Regions from separate parts of the Homo sapiens genome. Here region 2 is linked to region 1. Evidence: fine-mapped expression QTL. A gene starts in region 1. The other region holds a variant in brackets. All regions are shown on one strand. Distances are between the middles of the regions.

Evidence for each region. PIP is the estimated chance that this variant, and not a neighbour inherited with it, causes the effect. A credible set is the group of variants that fine-mapping cannot tell apart.
Region 2: its variant is the best candidate, but not a certain one, in a credible set for the expression of CDC42SE2 in whole blood (INTERVAL, PIP 0.63).

What each region holds. Positions count from the first base shown.
Region 1 is chr5:131,261,280-131,266,661 of GRCh38, forward strand. It overlaps CDC42SE2 (CDC42 small effector 2), which reads left to right and starts at 2,774. Exons shown (of 5, transcript NM_001375635.1): 1 at 2,774-2,887. RefSeq lists enhancers at 2,058-2,107, 3,236-4,053 and silencers at 2,228-2,297, 2,308-2,357, 2,388-3,037.
Region 2 is chr5:132,036,740-132,042,121 of GRCh38, forward strand. No RefSeq gene overlaps it. Among named protein-coding and RNA genes, the nearest start is that of IL3, 21 kb to the right of the region's middle. The variant C/CT (reference allele first, on the strand shown) is at 2,450.

The DNA of each region.
Region 1 (5,382 bases):
CTTGGTAACAATTTTAAGGACAGTGCACAGATACATCATAATGACTCTAGAAAAATTTTATTTGGTATTATTGTAATTACAAACTACAGATTAACATTGATGAAACACATTGTCAATTTTTTTATAAACAAAAGTCTATTTAATTTTATAAAAAATCAAATTGTAACATGTAATCTGTAGCTTTAAATTGTTTTAAATCATAAAGGATAAATTAAATGTGTAAAGAGACTGCTATGAATATAACATTGAGCAAATAATTATGCACACATACTCTACAAAAAGTATCATCCAGACCAGACACCGTGGCTTACACCTGTAATCCCAGCACTTTGTGAGGCGAGGAGGGCGGATTGTGTGAGCCTGGGAGTTTCAGACCAGCCTGGGCAACATAGTGAGACCCTGTCTACCAAAAACACAAAAATTAGCTAGGTGTAGTAGTGTGCGTTTGTAGTCCTAGCTCCTTGGGAGGCTGAGGTGGGAGGATCACTTGAGCCCGGAAGACAGAGGTTGCAGAGAGCCGAGATAGCACAGATTAGGCCACTGCACTCCAGCCTGGGTGACAAAGTGAGACCCTGTCTCAAAAAAAAAAAAAAAAAGTGTCATTCAACTGAATGGCATTGTGTCCTTAATTGACTTTTTTTTTTTTTTTAACTGATGAGAAGGGTGCATGAATAGCTATAGCAACTGAAATTAGATCATGGTATTCAATCACGTAATGTTTTGTTACAAAATATGAAAAATCTGAAAATAAATGTTTACATAATGAATACTACCCTTTATAGGTAAATGATAGAAAATTTACTACTTAAGGCATTCACACAAGGTTACTACATTTGTAATTCAAAGGGAGGCTTACAAGCACATATATCAAGTTCGGGAATTTTCTGGTTTTTTTTTTTTGTTCTAGGAAATTTTTAGAATTAATAGTCTTTATGTAACCTTCCTCTACTCTATCATGTTATTCTCATTCAGTGAAATAGGATTGTAGCGTATCATTGGTCAAAAAACTGCATTAAAAGTCAAGTAAATGGTCATCACTGTACTCACAGTAACTGGAAAATCAAAATGCTTATGGTATGATGTAGATAAAGATCTTATGGTTAACTGAAACAGAAACCAAGAGAAAATTTAAAATAAAAAAAATTGGTCATTTTTTGTTGCTTTAGTTTTTTTTAATCTCAGGGAATTTTTAAATTTTTCATTTATTCTAGGGACTTGGGATACATCAGTTGAACAAAACAGACAAAAATCCCAGCTTCTACTAGGGAAGGCAGACACTAAAAGCTAAACATATCAGATAAATACAGGCATACCTCAGTATCCGAGGGGGATTGGCTCTAGGACCACGACCAGTACCAAAATCCTCTCAGGTCTCTAATATAAAATGATATAGTATTTGCACATAACCCACATATATCCTCCTGTATAAATTATCTATAGATTACTTATAATACAATGTAAGTGCTATGTAAATAGCTGTTATATTGTATTGGTTTTTATTTGTATTTTTAAATTGTTGTGTTTTTTTTCCCAAATATTTTCCATCTGTGGTTGGTTGAATCCAGAAACGCAGAAGCCATGGATGCGGAGGGCTGACTCTGAATTATAAAGATTGTTACAAGGTGGGAAGTGTCATGGGATGAAAGGAAAAATAGTAAGGTAGGAAAGATGGAGAATTTTTTTTTTTTTTGGAACACGTGTCACTCTGTCCAGCCCAAGCTGGAGTGCAGTGGCCTGATGATGGCTCACTGTAACGTAACTCCTGGCCTCAGCCTCCAGAGTACCTGGAACTATAGGTACACGCCAACACACCAGGGTAATTTTTTTTTTTTTTTTTTGTAGAGACAGGGTCTCGCTATGTTGCCCACTCTGTTCTATTTTGAAGGTACAACCAACAAGCTTTCTTGACAGATTGAAAGTGAAAATGAGAGTATGAGAGGAGTTATGGATGATATAAAGTTTTTGGCCTGAGTAACTAGAAATCCTCGCCATCAACCTAGAATGGGGAAGACCATACATTACTTACAGGTTCGAGAGCTTACTTCAGTGGCATTACGCTATCCTTTTGAACTTACGATAAAGTTTTGTAGGCATTTTGGTGGACTGCTGGCTGCTAGATAGGGCACTCATGTTTCTGATTTCTGAGATATGTAAAATACACACCCAAAGGAATCACAGAAGTCTAGTACATGTGTAATTTTCACGCATTTCAAACCAGGTGGTTTAGCCAGCCTTAAACCAGTTAATGACTGATTGAACGATTCTGACTTTTACATGAAAAAGCAGTGGTCAGAGGATGGGCTCTCAACCGCTACTGAGAGACCCCTCATCCCACAACCGCTCAGCACCCACCCACCCACCCTCGCCTGTGCGCGTCCACCGCCCCACAACGTGCGCAGACGTCGCTCCTCCGCACGGATGTCCGCGGCCCGGGCCGGGGTGGGAAGGGGCTCCCCCACGCTCCCGCCCAGGTTTGGTCGCCATCTTTCGGAGCGTCCTTTCCCGCGAGTGCTGCAGTCCCGGATCTCAGGCGTCCGTTAGCTACAGAGGCCAATTCCTAACCCGCGCGGCTCGAATCCCGGGGGTCCCATCGCCTGCCGGCCGATTCGCCCATGCCGGAGGTACGGCGGGGGCGGGGCCTGGCGGGGGGCGGGGCCAGCACTGCGGTCGCTGCAGCTGCGCAACGGCGCCCGCCCCTCCGGCCGCTCTAGGGGCGCGCGCCGCCTCTCGCTCCGCCCAACCCGCGCGCGAGCCTGGGCGGGGAGGGGGAGCCAGGAAGCTGCGAGCGCGCTGGGGAGCGCAGCTGCAGGCGTTGGGGCGGCAGGAGCCGCGGAGCCGGCGCTGAGAGGGGCTGCGGCCGGAGCGGGCGGCTGAGACAAAGGCGACGGTGAGTGCAATGCCAGCCCCAGTCGCGCGTCGGCCGCCACGCCTCGCCCTCTCGGTCCCTTGGGCGGGGTCCCGAAGCCCCGAACCCTCGTCCCTGAGGGCTCTGGGGTGAGCGCGGCCCGGCCTTGCCAGCCGCGCGCTGCGGGCTGTGGGCTGAGCCTGCGTCTTCCATTTCAGGTTTGGGCGAGGTCCTCATGCCCTAGGACCCTGCCTTTGGTTTTTCTTCTGTTTCCTCTGAGGAATGGTTACACGCTCAGTTCAGAATTCACGGCAGGCGGACAGCTGAGGCAGCCAACTGACCGCCTGATGTAAAATGGAAAGGCAGACCCCCCCCCTCCCCCCAACTTTTCACGTCTGGAAGTCGGGAGGGTGGTGCGAGGGGCGGGCGGGGAGGGCCCGGGGTCTCTAGGTGAGGGTTTCGGGGAGCAAAGACACCTGGCTCCGGAGCTCCGACTCTTCGCCTGAGGCGCCCGACGCGTTCAGTCCGCGGGTCCTGCCGCGGTTCGCCCCGGGCCCCGGGCTTGAAAGCCCTTGGCTACCTCGTCGCGGGAGCTGAGCTACTCTTACAGGTTGTTTTACCCAGTGCTTGCAGCTTTAAGTTGCGATTTTAGGCAACGGGTGTGGTAGGTAGCGGCTCCTTGATGCCGCATTAACAGCTGAAAAAGCGCCCCGATCCGCTGACTTCACTATGTGTAAGAAACAACATTGGGGATTCCTCTTTAGCTTGCAATTATTTTAAATGATAAGCTTTTTTAGGGGAATTTTGGGGGGTGATGTGCAGTTTACAAAATCTAAATGTTTCGTTGAAGGGCCTGGCTTATAGTACGTGCTCAGTAAAGTATTTGTTGAATGAATGAATCTTGAAATATCAGACAAAGCTTATCTCACATCTAGTAAAATTTAGGCACATACTCCTTGATTATGATTAAGGAAAGAATGTCGGCAAACAGTATGTATTTTTGATATACGTTTTTTAGTTTTTGTCCCACATAACATACTGTTGATGAACAGTCCGTTCTTACTCTCAATATTATGAACATAGAAAATATATATCAAATTTGGATTTTCTCTTTTGGTTTGAGAGAAGTTGGTATACATTTTCTGTTTCTTAAAAACAGGCCTTATTTCTAATCTTTAAAAATAATGGAGAAGATAAAGAGGGAGTGGGATTGTATTTTGAAACCCAGCTTTCTGTTTCATTATGAATAAAGGAGTTTATGTGTTTTTGAGAAGGGACTGTGGTATGGTCTTGCTGCTTTTTGAGCAAGGGAGAACTCTAAATTTAGGGGGGGAAAAGCTAATGTTGCACTAATATAATAAAATGTCACCATTTACTCAACAGATATTCATTAAGCACCTGTTTATGGGCACAGGCAAAATCCGCAATTATCCTTTTCTTAAACTTGAATGCAAAGTTATTTCCTTATTATTGATGTCGCAAGTGGTGACTGTCTTAAACCCCTAGTGGCTATTTCAGTTGGGAAAGATGGCAGGTGAACTGCAGGAAGTGTAAATTCATAACAGCCTTTAAAGGTTAATAAGTAACTTTGTACAGCTAAAATTATTGGGTTAAGCTTTTATATTGTCAGTTTAATAGAATCTGTCTACATTTTAAAATGAAGGGAGGAAGACATTTAATAAGCTAGTGTTTTTATTATCTCCCTGGTCCCTATTAGGAGACTTTGGTACAGTGTATTGAAGGGTAATGTACTTCTGGTCCTGTTTTCTGTAAATAATCTTTGTAATAACATTTTCTGTTTTTAAAAATCCCCAGAGATAAACAGTAGATTCCTTTTCTATAAGAAATGTTTTAAAATAAAGCTTCATTTCAGGAATTTTATTTTGTCCTTGTGTTCACCACTTACAAATAAATGCATATAAACTTGATAGTGCTAAAAAGGGAAGGATTATTAGTAATAATTTGTGGTTCCATATGTGGACTTATCTTTTAGTATTGCAACTGTGATAAAACTACTAATTTAAAAGGATGAGATTTGTAGTTTTGCATTTATTCTGAACATAAGGTTGCGTTGCCTATTTTAATCTATTTATATATGTTTAAAAAGCAGTAATATTTTATTTATTTCAGGAATCCAGACTAATGTGATCCAAAGTCTGTCTTGATTATTATGAAATAATGTAGATATTAATTTTTTTATAGTTAGCTTTTTTGTATTTAAGTGGGCTGTTTTGACTGTTAATGCTTATAATACTTAATACATTGTTAAAGATAATGTTTACATTCAAATAGAAGTTTCAGATTTTGGACTTACCGGCTATTAGCTTTTTTTTTTCTTTTTTTTTTTTTTTTCGAGACGAAGTCTCGCTCTGTCACCCAGGCTAGAGTGCAGCGGTGTGATCTCGGCTTACTGCAACCTCCGCCTTTGGGGCTCGAGCTATTCTCATGCCTCAGCCTCCCATGTAGCTGGGATTACAGACATGCGCCACTATGCCCTATTTTTTGTATTTTCAAAAAGAGACGGGGTTTCTCTGTGT
Region 2 (5,382 bases), 780 kb after region 1:
CTGATGTTATTACTTTTATTCAGCATTCTACAAGATATCCCAGTCTGTGTAGTAAGGAAAGAAAAATAAATAAAAGATAGAAAACTAAGAAAAATAGAAGAAAATCTGTCACTACTCATAGGTGATGCATTTGTATATGTAGAAAATTCAAAAGGATCTATAGATAAGATTTTAGTATTGATAAGAGAGTTTAGCAAGTTTGCTGGATACAAAATCAGTCCATAAAAATCAATTGCATTTCTTTATACCAGAAAAAGACATTTATTAACATGATATTTTAAAAGAAGTTGCCTTTTTTAATATAATGCCAAAATGCCAAGTTCCTAGGAATAAATATAACAAAAGTTCTCTATTAAGAAAATTTTAAACTTTATTGGGAGACACACACACACACACAAACACACAAAGTGAAAATACTGTGTTTGTTAACTAGAAGTCTCAATATTGTAAAGATGTCATTCTACTGAAATTGATTTATAGAATCAGTGCAATCTCAAAGTCCCAGCATTTTGGGGTGTGGTGGGAAAAGTTGACAAGCTAGTTTAAAATGAATATGGATAAAGAATAGCCAAGACATTCTTAAAGAAAAAGAACAAGGTGGGAGAACTTGCTCTTGTAGATACCAAGATGTATTATAAAGTTAGAATATTTAAGACAATGTGATATTAGTTTAAGGAGAGACAAATAGAGCAATGGAACATAATAGAAAACCCAGAGAAAGACCCACACCCACGTATCTATGAACCCGTGAAATATAAGAGTCAGCAATGCAAATCAGCAGGAAAAGAAGTCTTTGCAAAAAATATGCTGGAACAAATGAGTATTAATATGGAAACAGCTAAACCAGAGCCCTGCCTCATGCAATTCCAGGTCAATTAAAGACATAGATGTGAAAGAAAAGACTATAGAGTTTTTAAGATACTATACAAGAAAATATCATCATCTCAAGGTAGAGAAGGAATTCCTAAACAAAACAAAATCAGTACCTATTTTTTTAACTTTCATTTTAAATTCTGGGATACAAGTGCAGGTTTGTTACATAGGTAAACTTGTGTCATGGGGGTTTGTTGTACAGATTATGTCATCACCCAGGTATTAAGCCTAGTATTCATTAGTGCTTTTTGCTGATCCTCTCCCTCCTTTCACCCTCCACTCTCCGAAAGGCTGCAATGTGTTCCCCTCTTTGTGTCCATGTGTTATCATTTAGCTCCCACTTCTAAATAAGACCACGTGATATTTGGTTTTCTGTTCCTGTGTTAGCTTGCTAAGGATAATGGCCTCCAGCTCTAGCCATGTCCCTGCAAAAGACATGATCTTGTTCTTTTTTATGGCTGCATAGTATTCAATGGTGTATATGTACCACATATTCTTTATCCAGTCTCTCATTGATGGACATTTATGTTGATTCCTTGTCTTTGCTATTGTGAAAAATGCTGCAATGAACATACGCATGCATATGTCTTTATAATATGATTTATATTCCTTTGGGTATATATCCAGTAATGGGATTGCTGGGTCAAATGGTATTTCTGTCTTTAGGTCTTTGAGCAATTGCCACTCTGTCTTCCACAATGGCTGAACTAATTTACACTCCCACCTATAATGTATAAGCATTCCTTTTTCTCCACAACCTCACCAGCATCTGTGATTTTTTGACTTTCTAATAGTAGTCATTCTGACTGTTGTTAGATGGTATCTCATTGTGGTTTTTATTTGATTTGCATTTCTCTAATTATCAGTGATGCTGAGCTTTTTTTCATATGATTATTGGCTGCATGTATGCCTTCTTTTGAAAAGTTCATGTCCTTTGACCATTTTTTATGGGGTTTTTTTTTTCTTGTAAATTTGTTAAGTTCCTTATAAATGCTGGATATGAGACCTTTGTTGGCAAAAATTTTCTCCCATTCTGTAGGTTGTCTGTTGACTCTGCTGATAGTTTCTTTTGCTGTGCTGAAGCTAAGTTTAATTAGATCCCATTTGTCCATTTTTGCTTTTGTTGCAATTGCTTTTGGCATCTTCATCATGAAATCTTTGTCTGTGCCTATGTCCTGAATGGTATGGCCTAACATTGTCTCCCAGGGTTTTTATAGTTTGGGATTTTACATTTAAGTCTTTAATCCATCTTGAGGTAATTTTTGTATATGGTGTAAGAAAGGGGTCCAGTTTCAATCTTCTGCATGTGGCTAGCCACTTATCCCATCACCATACATTGAATAGGGAATGCTTTCCCCATTGCTTGTTTTTGTTGACTTTGTCAAAGATCAGATGGTTGTAGGCATGTGGTCTTATTTCTGGGTTCTTGATTCTGTTCCATTGGTCTACGTGTCTGTCCTAGTACCAGTGCCATACTATTTTGGTTACCATAGCCCTGGAGTATAGTTTGGAGTCAGGTAGTGTGATACCTCCAGCTTTGTTCTTTTTGCTTAGAATTGCCTTGGTTATTAAGACT[C/CT]TTTTTTTTTTTGTTCCATATAAATTTTAAATTTTTTTTTTCTAGTTCTGTGAAGAATGTCAACAGTAGTTTAATGGAAATAGTATTGAATCTATAGATTGCTTTAGGCAGTATGACCATTTTAATAAAATTGATTCTTCCTATTCATGAGTATGGAATTTTTTTTCATTTGTTTGTGTCATCTCTGATTTTTCAGCAGTGGTTTGTAGTTCTTGTCAAGATCTTTTACCTCCCTAGTTAGCTATGTTCCTAGGTAGTTTATTCTTTTTGTGGGAATTGTGAATGGGAGTTTGCTCATAATTTGGCTCTTGGCTTGAATGTTGTTGGTGAATAAAAATGCTAGTGATTTTTGCACATTGATTTTGTATCTTGAGACTTTGCTGAAGTTGCTTATCAGCTTAAGAAGCTTTGGGGCTGAGATGATGGGATTTTCTAGGTATAGGATCATGTCACCTCCAAACAGCAATAGTTTGACTTCCTCTCTTCCTATTTCAATGCACTTTATTTCTTTCTATTGCCTGATTGTCTTGGCCAGAACTTCCAATACTATGTTGAATAGGAGTGGTGAGAGAGGGCCTCCTTGTCTTGTGCCAGTTTTCAAGGGGAATGCTTCCAGATTTTGCCCATTCAGTATGATGTTGGCTGTGGGTTTGCCATAGATGGCTCTTATTATTTTGAGGTATGTTCCTTCGATACCTAGTTTATTGAGAGTTTTTAGCATGAATGGATGTTGAATTTTATATAAAGCATTTTCTGCATCTATTGAGACAATCATGTGGTTTTTATCTTTAGTTCTGTTTATGTGATGCATCAAATTTATTGATTTGTATATGCTGAACCAAACTTGCATCCCAGGGATAAAGCCTACTTGATCATGGTGGACTAGCTTTTTGATGTGCTGTTGGATTCTGTTTACCAGTATTTTTTTTGAGGATTTTTGTATTGATGTTCATCAAGGATACTGGCCTGAAATTTTCTTTTTTTTATTGTGTCTCTGCCAGGTTTTGGTAGCAGGATGATGCTGGCCTCATAGAATGAGTTAGCGGGGAGTCTCCATTTTGATTTTTTGGAATAGTTTCAGTAGGAACAGTACCATATATTCTTTGTACATCTGGTAGAATTTAACTGTGAATCTATCTGGTCCTGGGCTTTTTTTTGGTTGATCGGCTATTTATTACTGCCTCAATTTCAGAACTTGTATTGATCTGTTCAGGGATTCAATTTCTTCCTTGTTCAGTCTTGGGAGGGTGCATGTGTCCAGGAATTTATCCATTTCTTCTAGATTTTCTAGCTTATGTGCATAGAGGTGTTCATAATATTCTCGGATAGTTGTCTATATTTCTGTGGAGTCAGTGGTGATATCCTCTTTATCATTTCTGATTGTGTTTATTTGAATCTTCTCCATTTTCTTCCCTATTAGTCTATCTAGCAGTTTATCTATTTTATTAATTTTTTCCAAAAGCCAGCTCCTGGGTTCGTTGATCTTCTGAATGTTTTTTTTCATGTCTCTATCTCCTTCAGCTCAGCTCTGATTTGGGTTATTTCTTGTCTTCTGCTAGCTTTCAGATTTGTTTGCTCTTGGTTCTCTAACTCTTTTAATTGTGATGTTAGGTTATTAACTTTAGATCCTTCTAACTTTTTGATGAGGACATTTTTTCCTCTTAACAGTGCTTTAGCTGTGTCACAGAGATTCTGGTATGTGTCTTTGTTTCAAAGAACTTCTTGATTTCTGCCTTAATTTCATTATTTATCCAAAAGTCATTCAGGAGCAGGTTATTCCATTTCCATGTAATTATATGGTTTTGAGTGAATTTCTTAGTCTTGGTTTCTAATTTGATCGTGCTGTGGTCTGAGAGTCTGTTTGTTATTATTTCAGTTCTTTTGCATTTGCTGAGGAGTGTTTTACTTCCAATTATGTGATTGATTTTAGAGTAAGTGCCATGTGACAATGAGAAGAATGTATTTTCTACTGTTTCGGGGTGGAGAGTTGTGTAGATATCTATGAGGTCCACTTGATTCAGTCCCAAGTTCAGGTCCTAAATATCTTTGTTAATTTTCTGTCTTGAATGATCTGTCCAATATTGTCAGTGGGGTGTTAAAATCTCCCACTATTATTATGTGGGAGTCTATATTTCTTTGAAGATCTCTAAGAACTTGCTTTATGAATCTGAGTGCTCTTGTACTGGGTGCATATATGTACTTAGGCTAGTTATATCTTCCTGTTGAATCAAACCCTTTACCATTATGTAATGCCTTTCTTTATCCTCTTTGATCTTTGTTGGTTTAAAGTCTGTTTTGTCAGAAACTAGGACTGCAACCCCTGCTTTTTTGTTTTCCATTTGCTTGATAGGATTTTCCTCCATCCCTTTATTTTGAGCCTATGTGTGTCACTGCATGTGAGATGGGTCTCTTGAAGATGGTATACCAATGAGTCTTGGTTCTTTATCCAGCTTGCCACTCTGTGTCTTTTAATTAGGGAACTTAGCCCATTTACATTTAAGGTTGTATTGATATGTGTGGATTTGATATTGTCATCATGGTATTAGCTGGTTATTTTGCAGACTTGTTTATGTGGTTGCTTTATAGGGCCAGTGATCTGTGTACTTCAGTGTGTTTTTGTAGTGGCTGGCAGTGGTCTTTACTTTCCATATTTAGTGCTTCCTTCAGGGGCTCTTGTAAAGCAGGTCTGACAGTAATGACTTCCCTTGCTTGTCTGTAAAGTATTTTATTTCTCCTTCACTTATGAAGCTTAGTTTGGCTGGATATGAAATTCTGGGTTGGAAATTCTTTTTGTTAAGAATGTTGAATATTGCCCCCCAATCTCTTCTGGCTTGTGCTGAGAGTTCTATTAGTCTGATGGGCTCCCCTTTGTGGGTGACCTGGCCTTTCTCTCTAGCTACACTTAACATTTTTTCTTTCATTTCGATCTTGAA